Regions from separate parts of the Homo sapiens genome. Here region 1 is linked to region 2. Evidence: fine-mapped expression QTL. Tissue or cell type: whole blood. Region 2 holds a variant in brackets; the other region holds the start of a gene. All regions are shown on one strand. Distances are between the middles of the regions.

What was found. PIP is the estimated chance that this variant, and not a neighbour inherited with it, causes the effect.
Region 1: it holds the start of SLC39A11, and the variant in region 2 is fine-mapped to the expression of SLC39A11 in whole blood (TOPMed, PIP 0.99).

What each region holds. Positions count from the first base shown.
Region 1 is chr17:73,089,551-73,096,993 of GRCh38, forward strand. It overlaps SLC39A11 (solute carrier family 39 member 11), which reads right to left and starts at 3,138. Exons shown (of 10, transcript NM_139177.4): 1 at 3,061-3,138. RefSeq lists enhancers at 95-595, 596-1,096 and a silencer at 2,067-2,298.
Region 2 is chr17:72,721,721-72,729,163 of GRCh38, forward strand. All of the region lies in intron 7 of SLC39A11 (solute carrier family 39 member 11), which reads right to left. Among named protein-coding and RNA genes, the nearest start is that of LINC00511, 85 kb to the left of the region's middle. RefSeq lists enhancers at 3,821-3,890, 5,970-6,264 and a silencer at 3,941-4,010. The variant C/A (reference allele first, on the strand shown) is at 3,923.

The sequences.
Region 1 (7,443 bases), 370 kb after region 2:
TAGCATGCAGCTTTGGTCCTCTCTCAGTGTGGCTTTGCCTCCATCTTTTACAGCCTTAGTTGCTTGAGGACGGGGACGGTGCTTTTTCACATTTGGCACCCCTGTAAAATAGGGCTTTGTAACCCCTGAAAAATATGTGCTGGATGGAAAAGGGCCAGCTTACCTGCACAGGACAGTCAGCAAGGACAAGCAAAAGGACCCAGGAATGGAATGTCCCCTGGTCAACTCAGCACCCTGCTGCTGAAGCTGAAGTTACACCACCGCCCACCAAGGAAAGGAAGGGAAGTACCACTCCCTCTCATTTCAGTCCAGAGAACCTCCTCCAGACTTTAACATGCTTAAAATTCTGGATCTGAGATGACAATCAGATCTCTCCCTGTGGAAAGTTACAAGGCAGAGAAACCCATTTGTTGAAAAGCCCTGTGTTCTGGTACACAAACACTGGGCTCAGGGCCTCATATCAAAGCCTCATTCATCTCCCTGATGGTCTGCCAGCACCCAGAGGGCTGGCTGGACACAACCACACTGGGCTCAGCCCTGCCAGTTCCCGGTGCTCTGTGAGGAGCCAGCAGCCCTGAGCCTGCAGATCAAGAGCTGAAGACGCTGCCTCGATTGACCCTGGAAGGAAACCATGGCAGAGTGTGGACGCAGCCCTTATGCCAAGCGGCTCAGCAACACACCCAGGCTCAAACCTAGGAAGGGTATAGGTCCAGGTGAGCCCAGGTGAGCCCTGGCTCAGCCCCTGTGCCAGAAACTCTGAGATAAATAGCATCTATGGAATCAGACTCTAGTTCCCGCACTCTAAACGAACTGCACCAACTGTGAAAACTGTGACCACGCCAATTAAAGAAAAAAAAAATCATTTTCAAAAAACTACTACCCTTTACATCCGTCATCTTGCTAAGCCACCCTAAAAAGAGGGGTTGGTCTTTGTTTTTAAACCAAGCCATCTGGACCATTACACCAATCATCTATTCCGAGTTGCTGTGGACAAAATTTCAAACAGCATTTACAAAGAACAGCACAAAGGGATCATCCTCTTAGTACTTATCATCCAAGACAGGGCATAACAAAAACACCTTTCTTTCCTGTATTTGAATGTGCCTCTTGACAGCTACAGAAGAGAGCAAACAATTTACATTTGCCAACAGGCCAAAGTCAATGTGGATCTTGTGGGCTGGTGAACAGAACAGAGGGAGCTCGTGGGTGTTCCTGGTGGTTAGTGGGATAGGGAAACACCCGTCTAAGCCTGTCCCCATGTATATCTGAGCACCCTCCTGAGTAAGAAAAAGGGACACAGAGGGAAGACCGAGGCCACCATCCTTTCCATCCCAACAGGAGCAGCATTGATCACGGGCAATGCAAGCCCAGTGCCCCTCGGAGAAGTTTCTTCTCTATTTGCTGTTTTAAATCCTCGCTACAAGGGTGGTCAGAGAACCAGCAGCACTGGTCCGGCTTGGGAGCTAGTTAGGAATGCAGAAACTCAGGTCTCACCCCAGACTTTCTGAATCAGGGTCTGCATTTTGTGGAATTCCATGGGGGATTCTTATGCACATTAAACTGTGGAAAGCAAAAGATTAAAACTGGTAAAACTTGGCCAGGCGCAGTGGCTCATGCCTGTAATCCCAGCACCTTGGGAGGCCAAGACGGGCAGATCACCTGAGGTCAGGAGTTCGAGACCAGCCTGGCCAACACGGTGAAACCCCATCTCTACTAAAAACACAAAAATTACTTGGGCGTCGTGGTGTGTGCCTGTAGTCCCAGTGCCTGTAGTCCCAGCTACTCGGGAGGCTGAGGCAGGAGTAATCGCTTGAACCCGGGAGGCGGAGGTTGCAGTGAGCCGAGATCGCGCCACTGCACTCCAGTCCGGGTGACAGAGCAAGGCTCTGTCTCAAAAAAAAATAAAAATAAATAAATAAATAAAACTGGTAAAACTTCTACAATACCAAGAGCTTAGAAAATGAGTTCTCCTGCCCCATGTGGGATTGGCAAGAGCAAAGAAGAGTCCCAAAAGAACAGAAAGTTTTCTGCAGAGTCTCAAGAGAAGAAAAAGTTTCTGGCAGAGTCCCAAGAGAACAAGAAGTTTTCTCTAACCGGCAGACCAGTAACAACTTTAGGACACAGCATCTCCATCACAGCTTACACAATGGGGCTCAGAATTCCTCACGATGGGGATATTAATTCCATCAACCCTGATTCGTTAGCAGCAGGGAGAATCATTCTCTGACCGTTCCAACTTTTAACATGCCAACAGCCTGTAGACTTGTACACACCTGCCACAGCAGCACATGGGCATTCCCGGCTGATTGATACAGGTTTGTTTTCTTTATTTCCTTTCTCCCCCTTTTAAACCTGTTGTTCCGCTTCCAAGAGTCAGTTCAAGAGGCTGGTGAAGTTGCAGAAGTGGAAACAGCACTAGGGCTGCTGGGCCTTAGTGGAGCTGCACACACATGCCCTAACTCCACGAGGGGGAATCCAGCAGAAGGATTCAGGTCTGGGCGGAGAGGACTGTGGAAAAGTTCTCTAATGCCTCGCTACTCAAAGCGTGGTCCGCGGACCACCCAACCTGGGAATTAGTTAGAAATGCACACTGTCACGCCCCACCCAGACCTGCTGCAAGTTAACCAGATTCCCAGTCAAGTTCCAGAGGTCCAGCTAACAGCCAGAGCAAGTGGGAGGGGCCTGGGAGCAGCTGGATTTGTAGCTGCCTCTGCTCCCAGGAATCCCGGGTACCCCCACACACCGCCTAGGAAGGGACGAACGAAGAGGATTTGGGTTAGGACTGTAAAAGGAAGGCATGTCATTGCCTTCCAGATCACCCTGGAGAGGGACATAGCCGGGGTCCGGGGACTTCCTTCCCACCGCCCCTCACCCTCCCACCCCGCCCCGACACCTGCCAAAGCCTCCAATTTCTCCTCCAAACCCCTCCTCTCTCCAGGCGTACCCCCTTCCAAGCTCCAGGTGGCTGCCCTTCCAAGTCCCACACTCTTGTCCTGATGGCCTCCGACCCCGGGCCTCGAGCCCAACCAAAGGCACCGAAGGAGAGAAAAGCCAACTCACTAGGGTGCCCTCTCCAGCCCCCACTGCACTTCCATCAGCCCCCGCTGCCACTCTCTCGCCGGCTCCACTCCCGCAGTCACTTCCTGCTTCCCTCCCGCACACGTGGCCCTCCCGCCTCCGGGCCCCGCCCCCTTGGCCGCAACTGGCAACTCCCGCCTGAAGAATAGATTCTCTGGTTCACAGCCGTCTGCAGGCTCAGGAACAGATCTGGGCGGGCAGAACAGAGCCCTGAGGCCAAGAGCCCAGCAGTCTGCGAGTGACTGCAGCCCTAAGGGAAGCTACAAACACCCAAGGAAAGAGCCCTTTGTAACACCCCTGATGTTACTTATGCTTCTACACCTTTGGCAGCCAGGTCCATGCCACTGGGTGCGCAGCAGAGCAGGATGTGCTGTGTGTGTGTTGCGGGAGAGGCTGGGGGCGGGTAATGTGATGGCATCGGCATCATTCTCCAGTCAATGACCCTCAAAAGAATCACTGGAGGGGGTCAAACACAAAATGCCAGCACCCCCAGAGGCTCTGGTTCCGTCATTCTGGGTGGGGCTGACATTTTGGGATTTTTTTGTTTTTGCTTTTGTTTTTTTGAGATGGAGTCTCGCTCTTTCGCCCAGGCTGGAGTGCCGTGGCCCAATCTCGGGTGATTGCAGCCTCTGCCTCCTATGTTCAAGCGATTCTCCTGCTTCAGCCTCCCGAGTAGCTGGGATCACAGGTGCATGCTGCCAAGCCCCGCTAATTTTTGTTTTTTTTTTTTTTTTTTTTTTTTTTTAGTAGGGACGGGGTTTCACCACGTTGCCCAGGCTGGCCTCGAACCCCTGACCTCAAATGATCCACTCGTGTGGGCCTCCCAAAGTGCTGGATTATAGGCATGAGCCACCGCGCCTGGCCTGAGATCTTGTTTTGAGCTAGGAGTTGCTGATGCTGCTGTCCTGGGACCACCCTTTGAAAAGCACTGCCCTAGGTCAAAGGCTTTGATCTGCAGGATTTCTGTGAAAAGACCAGAGGATAGGATTGACTAGATTTAGCCAAAAACAAAACAAAATAAATAAATAGATAGAAACAAGATGCCTGGGCTGGGCGCTGTGGCTCACGCCTATAATCCCAGCACTTTGGGAGGCCGAGGCGGGCAGATCACAACGTCTGGAGATCGAGACCATCCTGGCTAATACGGTGAAACCCCGTCTCTACTAAAAATACAAAAAATTAGCTGGGCGTGGTGGCAGGCGCCTGTAGTCCCAGCTACTCGGGAGTCTGAGGCAGGAGAATGGCGTGAACCCGAGAGGCCGAGCTTGCAGTGAGCCAAGATCACGCCACTGCACTCCAGCCTGGGCAACAGAGCAAAACTCCATCTCAAAAAAAAAAAAAAAAGCCTGATTAAATTTGAATTTCAGAAAAATAACGTCATTTATTACTATAAATATGCCCCGGGCAATGTGTGGGACATACTTATGTTACAGGCATATTTGTTGTTGATCTGAAACTGAAACCCAGCTGAGTGTCCTGTGTTTTATTTGACAACATATCAGAGCGTGACCTGAGCAGAAAAGCTACCCGTGGTCTCGATGGCCATAGCCCAAAGGGTCCAATAACAGGCCTCTTTCTTCCAGTGGAACTAGGTTGTTCACACTGACGGTCGCACCATATACCAAGCACTCCATGGGGAGGAGAAGACAGCCTGGCCACTGGAGGGTGGTCTTTGCCCTTAAAAGACCCCCAACTTGGAAGAGTCAAATCAGCCATTGCAATTCCACATAAGAGAGTATGTACAGGCACACAGAGACACAATACCCATGTGGCACGGCCCATCAACTCATCTTCCAAAATGTCATACCTCTTCCTGCACGCTGCAATAGCCATAAAATGACACAATATCTTAGACTCACTTCAAAATATGATGGAAGAGAAAAGTGGATGGAGTAGAGATTAAACAAAATTGGCCATGAATTAACCATTCTTAGGCTGGGCATGGTGGTTCACACCTGTAATCCCAGCACTTTGGGAGGACAAGGTGGGCAGATTGTTTGAGCCCAAGAGTTTGAGACCGGCCTGGGCAAAAAAGCAAGATCTCGTCGCTACAAAAAGTTTTTAAAAAGTAGCTGGACATGGTGGCAGATGGTAGCTGGGCCTGTAGTCCCAGCTACTAGGGAGGCTGAGTGGGGAGGATCACTTGAGCCCAGGAGTTTGAGGCTGCAGTGAGCCGTAATGGTGCCACTGCACTCCAGTGAAAGACCCTGTCTCTTAAAAATAAAAAATTAACCATTGTTGAACCTGGGGAACGGGCACGTAGAGGTTCATTAAATGTTTCTGTTTCTACTTTTGTGGATGCTTAAATTCTTTTCTTTTTTTTTGAGACGGAGTCTCGCCCTGTCACCCAGGCTGGAGTGCAGTGGTGCAATCTCGGCTCGCTGCACCCTCCACCTCCCAGGTTCAAGTGATTCTCCTGCCTCAGCTGGCCTCCCAATTAGCTGGGACTACAGGTGCGTGCCACCACACCCAGCTAATTTTTTGTATTTTTAGTAGAGACGGGGTTTTGCCATGTTGGCCAGGCTGGTCTCAACCTCCTGAGCTCAAGCAATCCACCTGCCTCAGCCTCCCAAAATGCTAGGATTACAGGAGTGAGACACTGCGCCCAGCCGCTTAAATTCTTTATAATGAAAAATAAACAGAAATGTTTACAACGATCCACAAAGTGCCTCTCCTGCCCAATCCTTTCTCTCCTTTCTCACTGCTGCTGTGAGGATTCAACCTGCCCATCCCTCATCTAGGTCATGGAGTCACCTCCTTCCACTCCACCCTGTCTAGTCTGTTCCATGTAGCACCGCCAAGATCAGCCTGCCTAAAGCACAGCACATCACACTCTCCTGCTCAAAAAGCTCCGATAGCTCCCCAGTGCCTTTGGCATAAAGTTCAAATGCTTCAGCCTGGAATTTGAGTTTTGCTGTGGTATGATTCCAACTAAACGTTCTCAAGTCTGTCTCCCAGGGTTCTCCTCCCTGTGCCCTCTGGCCAAGCCAGGCTGGACAGCTCGCTGTCCTCCACACAGCCTTCCCTCCCTGCCACTCCTATCTCCCTTATACCATTTCTGCTGAACTGCCCTTCGCCTCCCAAATCTAAGCCCCACCATCCTGCAAGACCCAGGTTTAATGCATTCTCCTTGGGCACCCCATCTGACCTCATCTCCCACCTGTCCCAGCCCTGGTTACAAATCGAGTCTCTATCCTCTAAGGTCCCATAGAACTCCATCTGGATTCTAAGGCACTTGCCTCCTTCTGTCTTATACTGTAGGATCTAACTTCACTGCTATATTCGGCATACAGACCCAGGATTAGAATCAAGCTCCTTACTGAGCTTCTTCCCCTCATCCCAGCCAGGATAGCACCTCATATTATAGCATGTCCTCAAGAGATGCTTGCATGCAATGCATAGGTAAACTTGATGTGGGAAAGGAAAAGTGGGGAAGCAACTAACATTTGTTGAATGCCCAACCTGGGCCACTTTATCTTTATATCCTCTTCTTATGTAAAACTCACAACTCTGAGGGGAAGGTATCATTATCCCCATTCTACAGATAAGGAAATTGAGGCTCAGGAAAGCTCTGGAGTGACCCAAGGTCCATGGGGCAGTGTGGGACACCAAGCCCAGCTGACTCCTGAGATGGTGCCCTTCCTGCATGGGGCATTCAGGGCTCACAGGATGAGACCCAGAGCCACCTTGATCAGCATTTCTGCATCTCACTTTCTTTAAACCACACCAAGCCCATAAGCGGGAGGGGTGCTAACCCCCAGGAGACAAATCTTACCATTTCCCCATCTTTCTCAATAAACTCCCACACATATGCCCACTCCGCAAACATGCAAACTGCCCCCTTTCACATACTTCCTTACAGTCAAAAGGGCCAGAGTATTGGCCAGAAGAAAATGTTTCCTGGGCCAGGTGCGGTGGCTCACGTCTGTAATCCCAAAACTTCGGGAGGCTGAGGTGGGTGGATCACGTGAGGTCAGGAGTTCGAGATCAGCCTGGCCAACATGGTGAAACCCCATCTCTACTAAAAATACAAAAATAAGCTGGCCATGGTGGCAGGCGCCTGTAAGCCTAGCTACTCGGGATGCTGAGGCAGGAGAATCGCTTGAACCTGGGAGACGGAGGTCGCAGTGAGCCGAGATCATGCCATTGTGCTCCAGCCTAGACGACAAGAGCAAAACTCCATCTCAAAAAAAGAAGAAAGAAGAAAATGTTTCCTGAAAGCTAAATACACTGGCTCTGACCTCCACCCCACCCACAGTCCATTCCTATTCTCTCCCATGGGACCTAAGGTGGCCTGACGCCCCCAGGGCAAAGGGATGGGATATGCAGGAACAGACCAGAACAGTGGCTCCAGAAGCAGTGGCA
Region 2 (7,443 bases):
GCACTTTGGGAGGACGAGGCAGGCAGATCACTTGAGTTCAGGAGTTTGAGAGCAGCCTGGCTAACATGGCAAAACCCCATCTCTACTAAAAATACAAAAATTAGCTGGATGTGGTGGTGCATGCCCATAATCCCAGCTACTCAGGAGGCTGAGGGAGGAGAATCGCTTGAACCTGGGAGGCAGAGGCTGCAGTGAGCAGAGATGGCGCCACTACATTCCAGCCTGGGCAACAGGCAAGCCTCCATCTCAAAAAAAAAAAAAAAAAAGTATACCCTGTAACTCAGCTGTGAATTAAAAAATTATTTTTCTCTCGGATATTATTCTGTCCCAGGGCCCCCATTTCCATGAAGTAGCCAAAGAAAAAAAAAAGGTCAATCCAAAGGAATTCAGTATCTTCCAGTATCAATTTCTTTTCCATGCTAATGATTCTCTTTTGGGATAATACTTAGGAATTCAAGAATCGAGATCCCTCCTAGGGCTGTGACTTCCTTCTCTCAAAAAGACTCCCCTTCCCTCCCTGCCCTCCTCTCATTGATGGCTTCTGCACACAGGGAAAGACAACAGGGAAGCAAAAGTCAAGGGAACACATTTTAAAAATACACCGTCCAATTTCAAGAAACTAGATTTTCAACAGATGAAAACAGTAGCAGAATAAATTGCAGAGTCCAGATCATCTTGTCGCATTGCCCAATGGAGTTCAAACGGATTAGTTTGTATCAAGAGCATAATGACAAACCAGGTATTATTATGCAAGGTTTTCATATTGTTTTACAGAATTTGAACTGGGGTGGGGTGGGGGAGGGAAAAAGTAAGGTCTTTGGAAGGTCTTTGGTCTTTCTGTTTGGAAGACAGAAAGGACTTTGTTTTATCCTGAGCTCCTGATTTCATGAACTAATTTCTGGTGGTAAATAACACTTTTTTTTTTCTTTTTTGAGACAGAGTCTCGCTCTGTTGCCCAGGCTGGAGTACAATGGCACGATCTCAGCTCACTGCAACCTCCGCCTCCCGGGTTCAAGCGATTCTCCTGCCTCAGCCTCCCGAGTAGCTGGGATTACAGGTGCCTGCCACCAAGCCTGGCTAATTTTTGTATTTTTTAGTAGAGACAGGGTTTTACTGTGTTTGCCAAGCCGGTCTGTATCTCCTGACCTCAAGTGATCCACCAGCCTCGACCTCCCAAAGTGCTGGGATTACAGGCATGAGCCACTGCACCTGGCTGCACTTTCTAGAAGGGTGATCTCTCATAAAATAATTCACTGACCATGGCGGTCTACGATTGCATCTTTCCTTCAATGCCTTCACTTTGAAAAATATAAAGGGTGGCCGTCGTTTGTCAGTCTTTACATATTTGGGGGACGTCTTCATTGTCCAACAAAGCCCAACAGTCTCATAGCCATGGATACAATCTGCCTTTCTCACATGATGCACGTAGAAACTGAGGCACATACAGTAAGGGCCGAGTGCTCAGTCAGGTTGTCAGGTGCTTGTCAGGTGAAGTCCCAGATGCTTCATAGAGAGATGTCACCAGGAGGACAGAGTGCTGAAATGAGCACGTGTCTTAAAATCCCTCCCAGGATTTTCTTTGTCTTTGTAGGAGTGTAAGAGTGTGTGTGTGTGTGTGTGTGTGTGTGTGTGTTTGCAGCCTAGCTGTCAGGAGGTCTGGATTAGAGAATTTCTCCATCCTTCAAAGGAAAACCATCTTTCAGAGTAAGTAGTAGCAGGAAGAGATGGATGACAGTAACTGGATTTGTAATACCAGTGAGGCCAACCCCAAACACACACAACCATCACCCTACATGTGGATTGTCTGTGCTAGGAGAAGAAAGTACAGGCGTGAAGAGTGCTAACTTCAGAACACCCCAAAATCAACTAGATTTTTCTTTTTGCCATTTTTGAGGTGATACATTTACTTTTCGAATGACTTCCGTTGAATAATGTTATTTGTTCCATCAGTCCTGGGGAGTGAAGAAAGTGGGTCGTAAAAGTCTGCCAGACACAGACGAAGCCAGACCAAGATGGAACCTTGTGGGCAATCTCAGGTTAGCAGGTAATCAGATCATTCACCCATCTGTCCATCTGTTTATCCAATTCAACCCAGAGATTCACAAGCACCAGGCTCCATGATGGCATATTTTGCAGGCAAATGGCTATTAAGTTCTTCATTCTCCTCCACGTGTTCTGGAAAATCACCAGGTTTCCAGGTAACGACGGGATTGTATTTGTCAGCACAGAACTGGGGATGTGGAGGACAAAGTCTCCAAGGAGTAGTTCTTCTTCCCTGGTAGGATTTCTCAGTCAAAGAAAAATCTTAGACGTGCAACTATTGGGCGATCAGTGGTGCTAACACGGGAACACACATCTTACTGGCAAAACACTGTCCCTTTTATTTTTTTTTTTCTGTAAAACGTTGCTCTTATTGGGAGCTTGAAAAGCATTATCATAAAAAGCCATGGGAAGGGAGAAGGGGAGAGGAAAGAGAGGGACAGAGGGGGATAAGAATTGCCCAGGTTTGGACAAGGACTCTGGAGATGAGGCCCAAGATGATTCATTTCTCCCTGTTCGCTTCCCAGCCCTCAATCCCATCTGGCTCCTTTCATTTGAGTTTTCTATTGCAATGCACAAAACAGATAATTTTCCAAAAGCTTGCTCAAAAGCTTCCAGGTGGTCCAAGAATGGGAGGGGCACTTCTTGCAGTTCAAATGGGACAAGAGAAAAAACATCAAGAAAGCGGTGGGGGGGAGTGAGCTTCAGAGGGGAAGCTGAGACAATGAGGAAAGCAGACCTTTTGAGACATCCTGGATGTTCCCTCCACCCTCTGAAATGGAAACATGACCAGCTACAGACAGATCAGCTCTTAGAGGGGAGGAAAGAGCCCCAGGGTTCAGGAACCAGGAGCTCTGACTTGAGTCATCCCTGATGACTTCCTTTTCCACTCTGAGACTTCAGTTTCTTCACTTATAACATTAGAGACTTGGGCTAGATCAGGGATTTTCTGCCAAGTGCAGAGGGGAACTTTCATGGAAAGGGTGGTATCTATTCCATCCAGAGTGTTCGCTTAGGAACTTGTTCCAAAAGCTCAACTGCTAAAAAAAAAAAAAATACTTAAGAGGCAAGATGATCTTTCAAAGTCATGTCCAGCCCACCAGTCCTACAAATTCAAGCCTGTTTTCCCAGTTGCAGTTGATGAAATAACTATTCTAAGTTCTCTCTCTCCAAAAAGATGAATCCTGTGCTCAGTGAATCTCTGTGGATTGAAGGGATGGATGGATGGACAGACTGATGAATGACTTGATGGCAAATTACATAGGATGGTGAGAACCTGTTTGATCCTGGTCTGGCTTTGCCCATGCATCCGGTGGACTTCCTTGGCCTGGCCCACTTTCTTCACTTCCCAGAACGCATGCAATAAATAACATTATGTTTTTAAGTCACTAGAAAAGTAAATGTCACCCTCTCCCCTCCAAATGGCAAAAAGAAAAACTGAACTGATTTTTGGGTGTCTGGAAGTGAGGACTTTTCGCACCTCTATGCTCCCCTGCTAGGGTAGACCATCAAAAGCTTGGAGTAGCTTCTGACACTTTAATTGGCCCATTTCACATTTCTACCCCTCTACGTAGGGTCACATAAAAGCTATACTTTTATTCCCAACATGGGAAAATAAGACAATAACGAGCTTTATAAATGCTTAATTAAATGGGGGGTGAAAAATCAGGGTATAACAGCCAGAATATAAGGATGTTACTATTTTGAAAAATATCCAAAGCAAAGTTGGACATGTCCAAAGTTACATGTAACTTACATATATGGTCCTTAGCCTTCTGCAGATACACCTTCTGTACAAGCCGAACATAGATTTGGATAGCGACACACAGTCACCTTTCCTGGTCAAACTTTTTCCTTCTGGTACTGTGTCTAGCAACCTATG[C/A]TACCAAGCTACCGCGTGGTGGCGCCGTCTGTCCACCGCTGCCAGCCGGCACTTTCAAATTCCACTGTCTCTTTGTAAGGTGAGGCTGTGTAGTGTGGCAGGATGAGCCAGGAAAACTGAAGAGAAGGAGCTGCCAATAGATCACTCTAGAATTCCAGACAGGGTAGTGTGATAGGTTCAAGAGAAGAGCTTGCCTGCATAAAATAAAATTGAGAGCACAATGTGCGATTGCAGATAAAGAATAGAACAGGATTGTGCCGAAGTGACTCAAGGGTGGGAGGGGCATTTTTCTGCTGTGAAAGGGTGGGGACAGTGGGATCAAGATGTCAAAGTATTTTCTCCACAAGTACCTTAGTGTCCTCAGGCTGGGTCTCCAATTCTCAGGCTAAAAGCCACTCTCCAGGGAGACCAGGCTGGGAATGCTGAGACCCAAGTTGCTAGGCAGGGAGGAGGTTAAGATCAGCAACTTTGAGGAAGTAAGGGTCTCCCTAGGATGCTCCACGAGTCTGGGAGACTGAGTGCTGCCTGGGGCAGGTCTAGGCATTGCAAGAGCAGCTGCATGGAGGCTTGGAGGGAGCCAGTGAAGACAGCTTGCTTGTTCAAAGATGTTAGAGTGAACTATAATTAAAATGTTTCCATGTGAGTTCTCCGAGACTCCTCCCCGCCACAACAATGAAGTCTCCTTTGTAACTTCTCTACAGGTAACCTGCAAGCATGCTTTCAATAATCTACAGGATGCACACCTGGAGTCCCAGCTACTTGGGAGGCTGAGGAGGGAGGATTATTTGAGCCCAGGAGGTCAAGGCTGCAGCAAGCTATGATTGTGCCACTGCACTGCGGCCTGAGCAACAGAACAAGATCCTGTCTACACACACACACAAACACACACACACACAATCTACTGGAGCAAAAGTAGAGGGGCTGCTTGGACAGGTAGACACACATGTAACGTATCTTACACATACAGACATGCTCATCTACTAGCTAATGTTGATGAATGACCAGGAAAATATGTCAAAATATGCCACTTTTCTTTCTAAATAAAGGGTTGCTTTGTTAACTAATGGCTGCTGTCTTAAATAATTGTTAATATATCAACATATATATGTATAAGCCAGGGGAAAGGATTTATCTGACTTACGATCTTTCCTCTTTGATCAGAGAGGCAAACATATATCTTAAAATTGGTTTTGATGCCTCCATGTGTAATTTAATGGGCTATACTACATCCAAATGTAGACTAATCAACCATGCCTCCTTTACCAAGTGTCTGGGTGTTGATTAGCAGTAGCTGGTCCGGTCATATCTTGGGGATGTGTTTTGTGGACTATCCATGGCACACTAAAGTTCGCAGCCAGCCTCCTCTGCTGTGCACAGCCTGCTCTGGGATGGCCGCTGCACCTGTAGGTCAAGGCAGGTCCACAGACTACAAACGTCTCTTGACGCGTGCTTAGTCAAAGCTTAAAACAGGAAGTGGTATGTGAAGCTGAGTGTTTAAGCATAAACAGTCTTACTCTCCCTGCTGGTTTGAATGATGCCTGCCACTGAGTGAAGTGGGAGCTGAGGGCATGTCTCCTCTCCAGAGAACATGTTCTTTGAAGTGACGATACAGCAGAAAGGAAAACCGCTTAAGCATGCAATTCCCCAAGCACATACGGTCTGAAGAATTCCTCTGTGATTGAAACAGAAAGAAACTGCTATGGGACCAGAACAGAAAGAAGCAAGCTGGGGCCAGGCACAGTGGCTCACGCCTGTAATCCCAGCACTTTGGGAGGCCGAGGCGGGTGGATCACGAGGTCAGGAGATGGAGACCATCCTGGCTAACACGGTGAAACCCATCTCTACTAAAAACACAAAAAATCAGCCAGGCGTGGTGGCGGGTGCCTGTACTCCCAGCTACTCGGGAGGCAGAGGCAGGAGAATGGTGTGAGCTCAGGAGGTGGAGGTTGCAGTGAGCTGAGATCGTGCCACTGCACTCCAGCCTGGGTGAAAGAGTGAGACTCCGTCTCAAAAAAAAAAAAAAAAAAAAAGAAAGAAGCAAGCTGTGTTTCCCTTGAACTACAGGCCTCCCTCTGCTGGCTGAGAGTCTTCCTAATTCAGGAGACAATGACCTCTGAATGAACACCTTGGTGCAAGCTGACCTGGCCAGGTAGGGAGGTGGACAGATGGGAAGGAGCTGGGGAGGGCTCCAGGAAGGTGAGGAAGTAACGGCATCTGTACACCAGATGGCAGCAGCCACACACACATGATAGGCGAGGTGCCTGCCTGTCTTCTTCCCAGGTCAGAAACCCCTGAAGTGGGAACTGAAGACAGTGCCTTCTTGGAATAGTTCCTTTTCTTGTGGGTGGCTATAATGCCACAGGCGACGTTTATATGAAGCCTCCTGCTTCAACAGACAGGGCACAAGCAAGAGGTCATAAAAAAGACAGTTGGCCTCAGAGTATTTAATGATGAATATGGGCTAAAAACAGGGATTGTGTCCACTAAAGGAGGGGTCTAACGCTTTCTGAAAAGGGTCAGATAGCCAGGTGTGGTGGCTCACGCCTGTAATCCCAGCACTTTGGGAGGCTGAGGCAGGCAGATCACTTGAGCTTAGGAGTTGGAGGCCAGCCTGGGCAAACTCAATCTCTACAAAAAATACAACAATTAGCTGGGTGTGGTGGTATGTGCCTGTAGCCCCAGCTGCTTGGGAGGGATGCTGAGGTGGGAGGATCGCTTGAGCCCAGGGGGTCGAGGGTGCAGTGAGCCATGATTGCACCACTGCACTACAGCCTGAGTGACAGAGTGAGACCCTGTCAAAAAGAAAGGGAAAGGGAAAGGAAAGGAACAAAGGAACAGGGAGGTCAGATAGTAAATATTTTCAGCTTTGCAGATAGTAAGTATTTCCAGCTTTTCAGCCTTAAGATTTCTCTGGCCATTATGCAGATCAGCCACTGTAGCACATATGGAGCCAAAGACAATATGTAAACAAATGGGTGCGCGTATGCTCCAATAAAGCCTCATTTCCAGAAATAGGTGTTGGGCCAAATTTGGCCCGCAGACCATAGTTTGCCAACCCCTCCACTAAAGGAGTCATAAACTATCTGGCTCAGTTAGCTTGGTGCACGTGTACCCTGGGCCTGTACTGGGTAACGCTTTCCCCAATCTGTGTAAATGGAGTCCTTCTTCCCTCTCAGTTCACTCCACGGCACGAGATTAACCTACGTCTCCTTGTCACTTGGACTCAAATTCTCCCTTCTCCCTTCCACGCGACAACAAAATCAGCTGGCAAACGCTGTCTGTGGGTTCTGTACGCAACAGCTCTTCCTGGGATCAGTCCTCATTCTCATGGTCATCACAACATCCAGTATCTTCTTCATTGCTGCTAAAACACACAGCAGTGGGGTGGGCTGTAAATATTCTTTTTCAGTTGGTGCATTCTTCACACTGGTTTATCTCCCCACCTGCTCTCCCAGATTATTTTATCTTAGCCAGATGCATGTTTGAGTTACCTCTTGGGTGATGTCTCTTGCCTGCATCGG